Homo sapiens: one gene and its partners. The protein of the gene in region 2 purifies or fractionates together with the protein of the main gene of each other region. This does not show direct contact. Each region holds a gene or a part of one and is shown on either strand. Other genes may lie near its edges.

Region 1 (3,650 bases), on a different chromosome or scaffold from region 2:
CCAATCCCTAAGACTTTTAAGGGTAATATAGAGAAAATTGGCTTTTTTTTTTTCCACTGTTGGCCTAGGATTCAACTTTCTTTGGTCTGTTAAAACAGCATTGCTTTGTATATCTGTTTTCCAGCTTCTAACACTTCTGTCCTTCTCTTTTTTCTAGTGTTTTATGTCTTTCTCTCTTTAAAAAAAAAAAAAATCTCTTGCTGGGAATGGTGGCTCATGCACGTAATCCCAGCATTTTGGGAGGCCGAGGCAGGTGGATCACGAGTTCAGGAGTTTGAGACCAGCCTGACCAACATGGTGAAACCCTGTCTCTACTGAAAATATAAAAATTAGTAGGGCATGGTGGTGCATGCCTGTAATCCCAGCTACTCAGGAGGCTGAGGCAGGAGAATCACTTGAACCTGAGTGGCAGAGGTTGCAGTGAGCCAAGATGGTGCCAGTGTACTCCAGTCTGGGCGACAGAGTGAGACTCTATCTCAAAAGAAAAAAAAAATCTCTTAACTATAATCTTAGTGTGATGTGGGCTGGGATTAGAGGCTACATTAAGCCCCATCTTTAACCAGAAATCTCAGGCATGAGATGGTCTCATTGTACTAGGTGATATCCAGAACTGATTTCATTTCTTCAAGGTTTGAGTTCACTTTTTAAATATTTATTTTGCTTTCCTAGGTGCCGACCTTTACAATTTCAGCCTTCAAAATCTCACAAGAAGGTTTTGAAAAAAATGTTGAAATTTCTAGCTAAAGGGGAGGTTCCCAAAGGAAGTTGTGAGGGTAAGATGGGCTGGGTCTAAAAACGATTTACTATCTGTCTTTGCAACGGTCCCACTTTCAGTCATCTTGGGAAGGGGAAGGGTCATTAATACAGTCATGTACTGCTACTACTATGATGACAGCGACTACTGTTAGCACTGCTATTACTGTTACCATCGGCCCCCAAGTCAAGGCATGGGAATATATATCAGAAGAGTTTAGCGTGGAAAGAATATTGAGGATCATGTTAAATTTGTGATTTCTTGGAGTTTATCAAAATATCTGTTTCCAGAATGCTTTGATAACTCATCTTTCTTGATCCTAATACTATCCTTATGAAGTAAATAGAAAGTGCCATTGTCTCTCAAGAAGCAAGTGCTTACATGCAGCTTGGACAAGATTGCCCTATTCCTTTTAATGCTGAATAAAGATCAGCTTTTCTGTGTTTGAATAAGGCTTTACTTCAGTAAATTATACTGTTTGAAATCCTCTTATTTGTGTGATCAGTTTTGAATTGTGAGTGGCTTTGCTAAAACATAATAGCATTTATTTAACTTTAGTTACACATGATTTGCTTTTTTTCTTAGTCTTTTTACTAATTTTGGTTTTATTTCTTTAAATTTTCATATTGGGGCCGGGGGCAGTGGCTCACGCCTGTAATCCCAGCACCTTGGGAGGCCGAGGCAGGCGGATCATGAGGTCAGGAGATGGAGACCATTCTGGTTAACATGGTGAAACCCTGTCTCTACTAAAAATACAAAAAATTAGCCTGGCGTGGTGGCAGGCGCCTGTAGTCCCAGCTACTTGGGAGGTTGAGGCAGGAGAATCGCTTGAACCTGGGAGGCAGAGGTTGCAGTGAGCCGACATTGTGCCACTGCACTCCAGCGTGGGTGACAGAGCAACAAAAAATTGGCCGAGCTTCGTGGTGCACGCCCGTAGTCCCAGCTACTCGGAGGCTGAGGCACAAGAATCAGGGAGGTCAAGGCTGCAGTGAGCCAAGATCCTGCCACTGCACTCCAGCCTAGGTGACAGAGCAAGACTCTGTCTCCACCAAAAAAAAAAAAAGGAATTAGGTTCTGAGTTAGAAAAATGAACATGGAGATAAGCATTGAAGATGCTGTCCATTTGTAAATTGGTGGTTGCCTTTCTTTTATTTTTGGAGACGGAGTCTTGCTCTGTCGCCCGGGCTGGAGTGCAGTGGCTCAATCTTGGCTCACTGCAACCTCCACCTCCCGGGTTCAAGGCATTCTGTTGTCTCCGCCTCCCGAGTAGCTGGGACCACAGGCACCCGCCACCACATCTGGCTAATTTTTTTGTATTTTTAGTAGAAACGGGGTTTCACTGTGTTGGCCAGGCTGGTCTCAAACTCTTGACCTTGTGACCTGCCCGCCTTGGCCTCCCAAAGTGCTGGGATTACAGGTGTGAGCCACCACATCTGGCTGCCTCTCTTTCTTTTGTAGTGTTTATATTTGGTTGTTTATTTGACTTGTTACAGGCTTCTGAATTATCTGTGCCTGGAACTAGGAGTGATGTACTCATTAGAGTAAAGGAATAAACAGCTATGACAAAAAGATACCAAAATGCAATAACTAAAAGAAAGATAAAAGTCTGTTTCTTTCGGGGCCGGGTGTGGTGGCTCACACCTGTAGTCCCAGCACTTTGAGAGGCCAACACAGGCGGATCACGAGGTCAGGAGATCAAGACCATCCTGGCTTACACGGTGAAACCCTGTCTTCTCTAAAATTACAAAAAATTAGCCGGGCTTGGCCGGGCATGGTGGTTCACGCCTGTAATCCCAGCACTTTGGGAGGCCGAGGCAGGTGGATCACGAGGTCAGGAGATCGAGACCATCCCGGCTAACACAGTGAAATCCCGTCTGTATTAAAAATGCAAAAAATTAACTGGGCATGGTGGTGGGCGCCTGTGGTCCCAGCTACTTGGGAGGCTGAGGCAGGAGAATGGCGTGAACTTGGGAGGCGGAGCTTGCAGTGAGCCGAGGTCGCGCCCCTGCACTGCAGCCTGGGCGACAGAGGGAGACTCCTCAAAAAAAAAAAAGTCTGTTTCTTTCCTCACATAACAGTTCAGTGTGGGTGTTCTAGGTTGGCGTTCAACTCTTCTCCCCACCAGCCATTCTGGGCTTTTCTTTAACATGTGATTTCCCAGGTTGCTCTGGTTTTTACTAATCCAGCCATTGTGGGGAAGGGTAGAAGTTCAGGGTCGCAAGTTTCCTTTAAAACTAGTGAGGCATAATTGGATGTATCAGTTGTGTTATGTTCTGTTGGCAGGAGCTTGGTCACCACTTGTAAAGGGACTGGCAGTACATTGCCCTGCTAGGGCGCCACAGTTTTTGTTTTTTTTTTTTTTTTTTAATTTACTGTAGAGATAGTGTCTCACTATGTTGCCCAGGCAGGTCTTAAACTCCTGGCCTCAAGCAGTCCTCCTGTGTTGGCCTCCCAAAGAGCTGGAATTACAGGCATGAACCACCATGCCCAGCTGTGCCAGTCTTAAGTGCAGCTCTCTTATTTTGGAGGATGAGAATGGATTTGGTGGACAGATAGTAATTCTGCCACAATGGATAATAGGAACATTGTATTTCTGTATTTACCTAACTGTATCAAATAACCCAGCTGATGGATTTTTAATTTCTTCTGATTTGTAGATGAGCCCATGGATTCCACAATGGATGATGCTGTTGCGGGTGACTTTGCATTGATAAATAAACTGGATATACAGTGTGATCTTAAAACACTCAGTGATGACATCAAAGAGAGTTTAGAGAGTGAAGGAAAAAATTCAAAGAAAGAAGAACCTCAGGAATTACTTCAGTCACAAGATTTCGTAGGAGAGAAGTTGGGCTCTGGTGAACCGTCACATTCAGTTAAAGTTCACACAGTTCCT
Region 2 (3,650 bases):
CCATCCCCATTCTGAGTGTTTCTACATGTATGAACTCACTCACTTGATCACTACAAGAAGTACCATTGTTGGCCGGGTGCGGTGGCTCATGCCTATAATCCCAGCACTTTGGGAGGCCGAGGCGGGCGGATCACTAGGTCAAGAGATCGAGAACATCCTGGCCAACACGGTGAAACCCCATCTCTACTAAAAATACAAAAAATTAGCTGGGCGTGGTGGTGCATGCCTGTAATCCCAGCTACTCAGGAGGCTGAGACAGGAGAATCGCTTGAACCCGGGTGTAGGAGGTTGCAGTGAGCCGAGATGGCGCCGCTGTACTCCAGTCTGGGTGACAAAGCGAGACTCCGTCTCAAAAAAAAAAGAAGTACCGTTATTATTCCTATTTTATAGATGAGGAAACTGAGGCACAGGGGATTGAATAGCTTACCCCAAATCCCACAGTAAGTATGGAGCTGGGATTTAGACCCAGGCTGTTAGGCATTGAAGACCATATTCTCAGCCTTCGTGCTCTGTTGGGACCTCTGGAAGGAGGAGCACCCTGGAAGGAGGAGGCTTGGCCTCCAGGCCCCAGCAAACTCTGTTCTTGGAAAAGGATTGGAAAGAGTATTTGAATTAGCAGTTTCTTTCTTTCCTTTTTTTTTTTTTTTTTTTTTGAGACAGAATTTTGCTCTTGTCGCCCAGGCTGGAGTGCAATAGCGCGATCTCGGCTCACTGCAACCTCCGGCTCCTGGGTTCAAGAGATTCTCCTGCCTCAGCCTCCCAGGTAGCTGGGATTACAGGCACCCACCACCATGCCAAGCTAATTTTTGTATTTTTAGTAGAGACAGATTTCATCATGTTGGCCAAGCTGGTCTCAAATTCCTGACCTCAGGTGATCCACCCGCCTCGGCCTCCCAAAATGCTGGGATGGCACGCCCGTCCTGAATTAGCATTTTCATAGTGAAAAGCACCGTGGAACTTCAGGCCCAGGCCAGCAGCGGGAGGCAGGGGAGGCTGTCCTGCCTCTAGCCCAAGACAGGAGCTTTAGGAGCAGATGGTGGCTCAGAGGCACATCTGGGGAGGGCGTGGGAAAGCGTGTGACAGGTCCAGCTGGTGCCACAACCACAACTCCCCCTCTGTCCCCACCCGCACAGGTGGGTGTTTCTCTATGAGAAGGGCTACCAGACCTCGAGCGGCCTCATCAGCAGTGTCTCTGTGAAACTCAAGGGCCTGGCCGTGACCCAGCTCCCTGGCCTCGGCCCCCAGGTCTGGGATGTGGCTGACTACGTCTTCCCAGCCCAGGTGAGCTGGCTCAGGTTTGCACCTTCCCCTCACAGGGCCTGTCTCAGAGTTGGGTGGGACTCTGTCCCACGTCCCTGTGGGACCAGCCCAGCTCCTCTTTCTCTCTGGACCTCTGTGAATGCCGGGCAGAAGCAGCCTGGTGATATCACCCCATGTTGGTGGCAGGGGGTGTGGTGGCTGCTGCGTGTCCTGTGGGCTCTAGGGGCCTCTGCTGGGGCAGCGGTGGGGCCCTTGGGGCTCTTCTCCCAGCTCCCAGCCCACCCCACCCTCCCCCTGCCCCTCACTTCTAGGGGGACAACTCCTTCGTGGTCATGACCAATTTCATCGTGACCCCGAAGCAGACTCAAGGCTACTGCGCAGAGGTGAGGACTTCTGCCCGCCAGCCCCCTTCTGGGACTCACAGGGGAAAATGACGTGCAGAGAAAGTCTCCAGGGGCACTGGAGGGGAAGCCAGAGAGGCTTCCTGCAGGGGCCATAGTGATGGAAATTTGGGCGCATATTCACACACAGCAACTGTCAACCCTTGCAGAGCTGAGCCTTCCCGCCCAGCACACGGTGTACCAGGCAGGGTGCCGAGACTTCGTGCCCACCCCCACCGCCCAGCTGACATTGGCAGTGGGCAGCTGGGCATGAGCCCGGGGGGCGCCTCGGCAGAGCAGTGTGGGGGGAAATGGGGGAAGGAGGCTGTGAGCAGGCGTCACTCCAGAGAGGTCTGAGACTCTGCCCCACGCTCTCCCTAGGGCCCTGGGGGGTGGGGAGAGGGGCTCTTCTCAGGACCCCACCCAAGGGGCCTGGGACCAGCAGCTTTTGCCTCCCCCAGCACCCAGAAGGGGGCATATGCAAGGAAGACAGTGGCTGTACCCCTGGGAAGGCCAAGAGGAAGGCCCAAGGTAAGGTCAGCCTCCTCCTGTCCCTCCACAGTCCCCCGGCTGCGGTCCCTGACGTCCTGCAGGCCCAGCTTGGTGCTGACCTGCCTCTCTCCACACCCCTCCCGCCGAGGCGGCCTCCGGGAGGGACTCCCTCCTGCCGTCTCCCCTCCTCCGCCCTGGCTTGGCCTGCCCGTCCGGGACCCAGCCACGTTTCTGTCCTTGGCTCCTTTGCTTGAGTGGCCCGTCACTGGGAGCTCCTGGAGAAGGGGTCTGGGGCGGCCTCCTCTGTTTAGTGCAGGCACCCAGGGGTTTCCCTCTGGCTCCAGGCATCCGCACGGGCAAGTGTGTGGCCTTCAACGACACTGTGAAGACGTGTGAGATCTTTGGCTGGTGCCCCGTGGAGGTGGATGACGACATCCCGCGGTAACACTCTGACCTTCCAGAGAGCTAAGAACAGGGTCCCAGGCCAGACAGAGGGGGGCCTAGGTCTAGAAAGGATCTTTACCCCTTTTTCTGACCCCACCCTCACCCCATCCGCGCAACCTAGGCTGAAGATTCCCCTGGGTCCTGGCCACGCTAGAGCACACCCACCCCTCCACCAGCCCAGGGCTGCAGGCGGGTCCCGGAGGCTCGGCCCACCCCCTGCTGTGCCAAGCTCTGTGTGGGACACACAGGGGGCCTCCTGGGGAGGGGCGGTGAGTGCGTGTGGTGTCCTCCAGCCCTGCCCTTCTCCGAGAGGCCGAGAACTTCACTCTTTTCATCAAGAACAGCATCAGCTTTCCACGCTTCAAGGTCAACAGGTGCGTGGGAAATTCGGGCAGAAATGCAGGCAGCTGGCCGGGGCCGCTCCGGCAGCTCTCAGCTGTCTCTGTCTCCCTCCATTCCTGCTGGCGTGGAAGGAATCAAAGGGGCAATGTGGAGCCTGTGAGGGGTCCCCAGGCTTTGGGGCGTGGTGGGCACCCTCCCGGATGACACACAGCAGCTGTCAACACCTTCCACCCCCACAGGCGCAACCTGGTGGAGGAGGTGAATGCTGCCCACATGAAGACCTGCCTCTTTCACAAGACCCTGCACCCCCTGTGCCCAGTCTTCCAGCTTGGCTACGTGGTGCAAGAGTCAGGCCAGAACTTCAGCACCCTGGCTGAGAAGGTATGGAGCATGGTGCCAGGCACGTGGGGAGGGCTGGGCCGCAGGATCCTGATAAAGGCTTTTTAGGCCCAGTTCATCTTCCCAAGTCTCCTCGGTGAGGGCTGAGTATATGTATGGGTCTGTCCCCTGATACTGGGGCCCCCTGAGCGTCAGATCCATGTCTTCAGCAGGTCCTGGCATGGAACTGGCACGAAGGAGGTGCCCAGAATGAACGGATGTGGGCAGACCTTGTCATCTGGATGTTTGTTGATGCCCTGCTTTAAAAAAAAAAAAAAACTAGATAAAAGCAGCTTGGTCAGGTGCGGAGGGTCGTGCCTATAATCCCAGCACTTTGGGAGTCAGAGGCGGGTG
Region 3 (3,650 bases), on a different chromosome or scaffold from region 2:
ATTCCTGACCAGAACATTGATGTAGAAGGTAACTACCACAATAATTACTATTATGCAACAATCGTAAAAACATAATCTTATTCTTCTGGTAGAAGATAAATAATTCCTTCCAGCCTTGTAGTCTAGAAAACTCCTTTTATCACCTCAAGGTGATAATTTGATGTTGATTTACACCATAGTTTATCAGTTCTGTCCATCTTATCACTAATCTGTTTTGTCATTTGGGCCTTATCAGTTTGTTTACTTATCTTTGTAAATATGCCCACCTGGGATATGGAAGATGTAGGATGGAGGAAGGAAAAGTATGACCATTTTTTTTTTTAATTACATAGAAAATCTGATAAATAATACTGATTATTCCCTATGTATGAAGATGTTTTCTGGGAACAATAAATAAAAATATTGTTTTAGAGCTAAAAGAATCCTTAGTTGAGGAAGCTGAGGCTCAGAGGAGTTAAGGGACTTATTTTGGATCTCAGAGCAGTTTAGTGAGCCTGTGTCAGACTACAGCTCTCCTCATTCCCATTCCAGTGCTCTTGCTGCTCCCCTCATTGGTGGTCCACATGGAAGTACCTGGTGCGATACAAAGGCAAAGAAATACTTTAGTTAAGAATATTTACAGCCTGTAATCCCAGCACGTTGGGAGGCCAAGGTGGGTGGATCACAAGGTCAGGAGATCGAGACCATCCTGGCTAACATGGTGAACCCCATCTCTACTTAAAAAAATACAAAAAATTAGCCAAGCGTGGTGGCAGGCACCTGTAGTCCCAGCTATTTGGGAGGCTGAGGCAGGAGAATGGCGTGAACCCGGGAGGCAGAGCTTGCAGTGAGCCGAGATCGCGCCACTGCACTCCAGCCTGGGCGACAGAGCGAGACTCCATCTCAAAAAAAAAAAAAAGAATATTTACAAAGCAAACCATGTGGGACATTCATAACAGTGGCAGTGGAGGAAGGATGAACAGGCATAGATCACTGTGGGGGCTGGGAATGAGTGTGGCATGGACAGGACTCAGGAGCTGTACCACATTTCTCAGTGGTGGAGTGCTGAAAGCAGCCGGGTTAAGATTATCTTTGAGTCTGCGTATTTGTACTTAACGATTGGTCTACTGAGGAGTATCTTATACAACTTCTTGCAAGGCATCTTGGTTGTGACCACTGATGTCAAGATTACATGTTAGAAGAATGCAGCTAGATTTGGTAGAATAAACAGAAATTTATAACCTTGTTATTAAATTAACAGTGTCAACCAGTAACCATTACTAGCGTTTTAATTAGAGATACTTCTGTTATCCTTTTATGTGCATGCCACATTTAGACGGATGTCTTTGTGTGTGAAGACAGTCGTTGTTGTTATTTGTATAACACTTGTAATAGATATAAATATTATTTCATCCTACATGTGTACCTTGCTTTCAGCACTGCAGGTTGCATTTGGTTCACTGTATCGAGATGATGTCTTGATAAAGCCCAGTCGAGTTGTTGCCATTTTGGCAGCAGCTTGTTTGCTGCAGTTGGTAAGTATGCACGTTATTCGAAGAAAGGTTCAGAATAATAATCTTTGTCTCAAAGTGTGTACTCCAAAAACAAAAATAAAGCTTAGCTTTTTTGGAGTTTTTAAATAAAAATGAAATGTATAAATATGACATTTATTATAAATCATTTAAAATGCCTAACCAAAAGCAATTTATTACAACCGAGGGAGTCATGATGTCTGCATAAAATGAATGCAGGCCATTTCTGTGTAGATATCTTAGTATGACTATAATGTGGAAAAAACGTACTTGTCTAAGGTCATTTACAGATTTCATTAATGACTTGACTATTAAGCAGATGGCTTATGATTACCAATTAATTTCATTCATGGGTTCAAATAAACATGCATGCCTACTATTTAAATTTCTCTTAATTTTGAAAGAATTGTGTATAAATCACATATATGTATTTTAATCTACTGGCAGAATGACAGATTTGTTCATTGAAGAGAAGTGTGTTGAGCACTGTGTCAAACTAGACACAGAAAGCCAAAGGTAACTTAAGACGTAATCCTTACTTTCAAAAAGTTCACAACATAGTATGTATGTGTGGAGAGGGGAGGGAGGGTTGATATACAAACCCAAAGGTAAAGTAAGAGCTGTTCAATATTATAGGTATGATAATAAACATCCTGTAGCATTTAGTGAATGGATAAAGAAGGGAGTGGTCAGTTCATCCTGGTGGTGTCACATACGAAAGTTACATTTTCACACAGAGTCTTGAAAGTGTGTTTGTATTGCAAAGTAAGAAGAGGGGAAGGAAGAGCATTTCAGACAGAGAGAACAGAGTAAACTAAGATCTAGTGATGTGAAATAATGGAGGATTCAAGACTCTAACAGAAACATGGCTCCCACATAAACATAAGAAGGATTGCAGAAGAGGGGGGCAGAAGCCAGATCATGAAAATACATCTATACATTGCTAAGAAGTTTAGCATACACAGTACCTTTGGAATATTTTAATCAGGGGAAAGACGAAGTTATGTTTTAGAAAGAATACTTCAGTAACAATGTGACAGATGAATTGAAGGAAAGATGAGTACAGCATTAGAGACAAAAACTTGTTGCATTCGTCCAAGGGAGGAAAGTAGGGTAGTAGCAATAAGCTTGGAGGGGAAAAAGTGGATACCAGAGAGATTCAGGGATAATCCACTGGACTTGGTGATAGACTAAATGTTAAGAGGAAAGGGGAGGAGTCTAGAATGATTTCCAGGTAAGTTTAAAATCCTAATGGAGTCAATGTTTTATTTTAATCTTAAAAAATTGTTTACTTTTATGTGGTATTTTTGTACTGATTTATTTGAAGTATTAATAGCTTGCTAAATATCCTTGGTTGAGATCATTTGATTTTCAAAATGTTTTGATCCTTTCAATACTTACTTCCAATAAGTATACTTTATTATCTAACTCTGGTCCTTTTGGTTTTGTTCTAAATTCACCTTCTGCTTACTTTTATGATTTACTAACTCTTTAACTTAATATACCTGCATGATGAATGTATTTCAGAAATTTGAATGAAAAGTAGTATTCTTCCCATATATTAAAGTTAGTTCACTTAAAACCTATATAAACATTTTAGGTTAAAACTTTAATGTTAATCATTTGAAATAATAATATACTTGTTTTAAGTCTATCTCTTAGATATTGTAGTTATTTTAAACTTGATCACTTTCTGCTAATGCATACTGTTAGTTTAGTCCCATCACATGGTTAACTGACTATGTAGACTTCTTAATTTAAAAAGAAATGGCAAAACAGACAAAATGCTGCTAAAGAAATTTGCAAAGGTCTCAGACAGGGGAAGAATAGAAAAGAAAAAGAATAGCAGTATTCATTCTCTACCTTACTACTCCCCCCCACCTTCCATTTTCAAATTCCAAGTATTTAGTTGAATACTTGCTGAACTTTTTTCAGTATTTTTATTGGACTTGTTAAAAAAAAAAAAAAAAACTTAGGTTTGCTGCACTTAATGAGTTTTCTTTCTTTTCTTTCTTCTTTTTTTTTTTCTTTTACTTTTTAATATGTAAAAGCTGTCAGAGCTAATTTTTCCCACGTGAAATGGGCCTTTCCAGTGCTTATTTATATTTACAGGACGGTTTAATACAGCAGTGTGGTGAG

The links.
Region 1: the proteins of P2RX1 (region 2) and ATE1 purify together in Homo sapiens (affinity purification with mass spectrometry; 2 studies listed by BioGRID and IntAct, with this or other methods). This does not show direct contact.
Region 3: the proteins of P2RX1 (region 2) and GMCL1 purify together in Homo sapiens (affinity purification with mass spectrometry; 2 studies listed by BioGRID and IntAct, with this or other methods). This does not show direct contact.

Annotation. Positions count from the first base shown.
Region 1 is NC_000010.11:121,910,913-121,914,562, reverse strand, and holds part of ATE1 (arginyl-tRNA--protein transferase 1), read left to right. Parts: intron 1-669; coding exon 670-773; intron 774-3,411; coding exon 3,412-3,650. UniProt on the Homo sapiens protein: Involved in the post-translational conjugation of arginine to the N-terminal aspartate or glutamate of a protein. This arginylation is required for degradation of the protein via the ubiquitin pathway. Does not arginylate cysteine residues.
Region 2 is NC_000017.11:3,902,851-3,906,500, reverse strand, and holds part of P2RX1 (P2X purinoceptor 1), read left to right. Parts: intron 1-1,133; coding exon 1,134-1,281; intron 1,282-1,571; coding exon 1,572-1,643; intron 1,644-2,101; coding exon 2,102-2,171; intron 2,172-2,476; coding exon 2,477-2,573; intron 2,574-2,697; coding exon of another isoform or gene 2,698-2,869; coding exon 2,870-2,950; intron 2,951-3,157; coding exon 3,158-3,299; intron 3,300-3,650.
Region 3 is NC_000002.12:69,839,526-69,843,175, forward strand, and holds part of GMCL1 (germ cell-less protein-like 1), read left to right. Parts: coding exon 1-28; intron 29-1,416; coding exon 1,417-1,514; intron 1,515-1,957; exon of another isoform or gene 1,958-2,027; intron 2,028-3,562; exon of another isoform or gene 3,563-3,590; coding exon of another isoform or gene 3,591-3,623; coding exon 3,624-3,650. UniProt on the Homo sapiens protein: Possible function in spermatogenesis. Enhances the degradation of MDM2 and increases the amount of p53 probably by modulating the nucleocytoplasmic transport.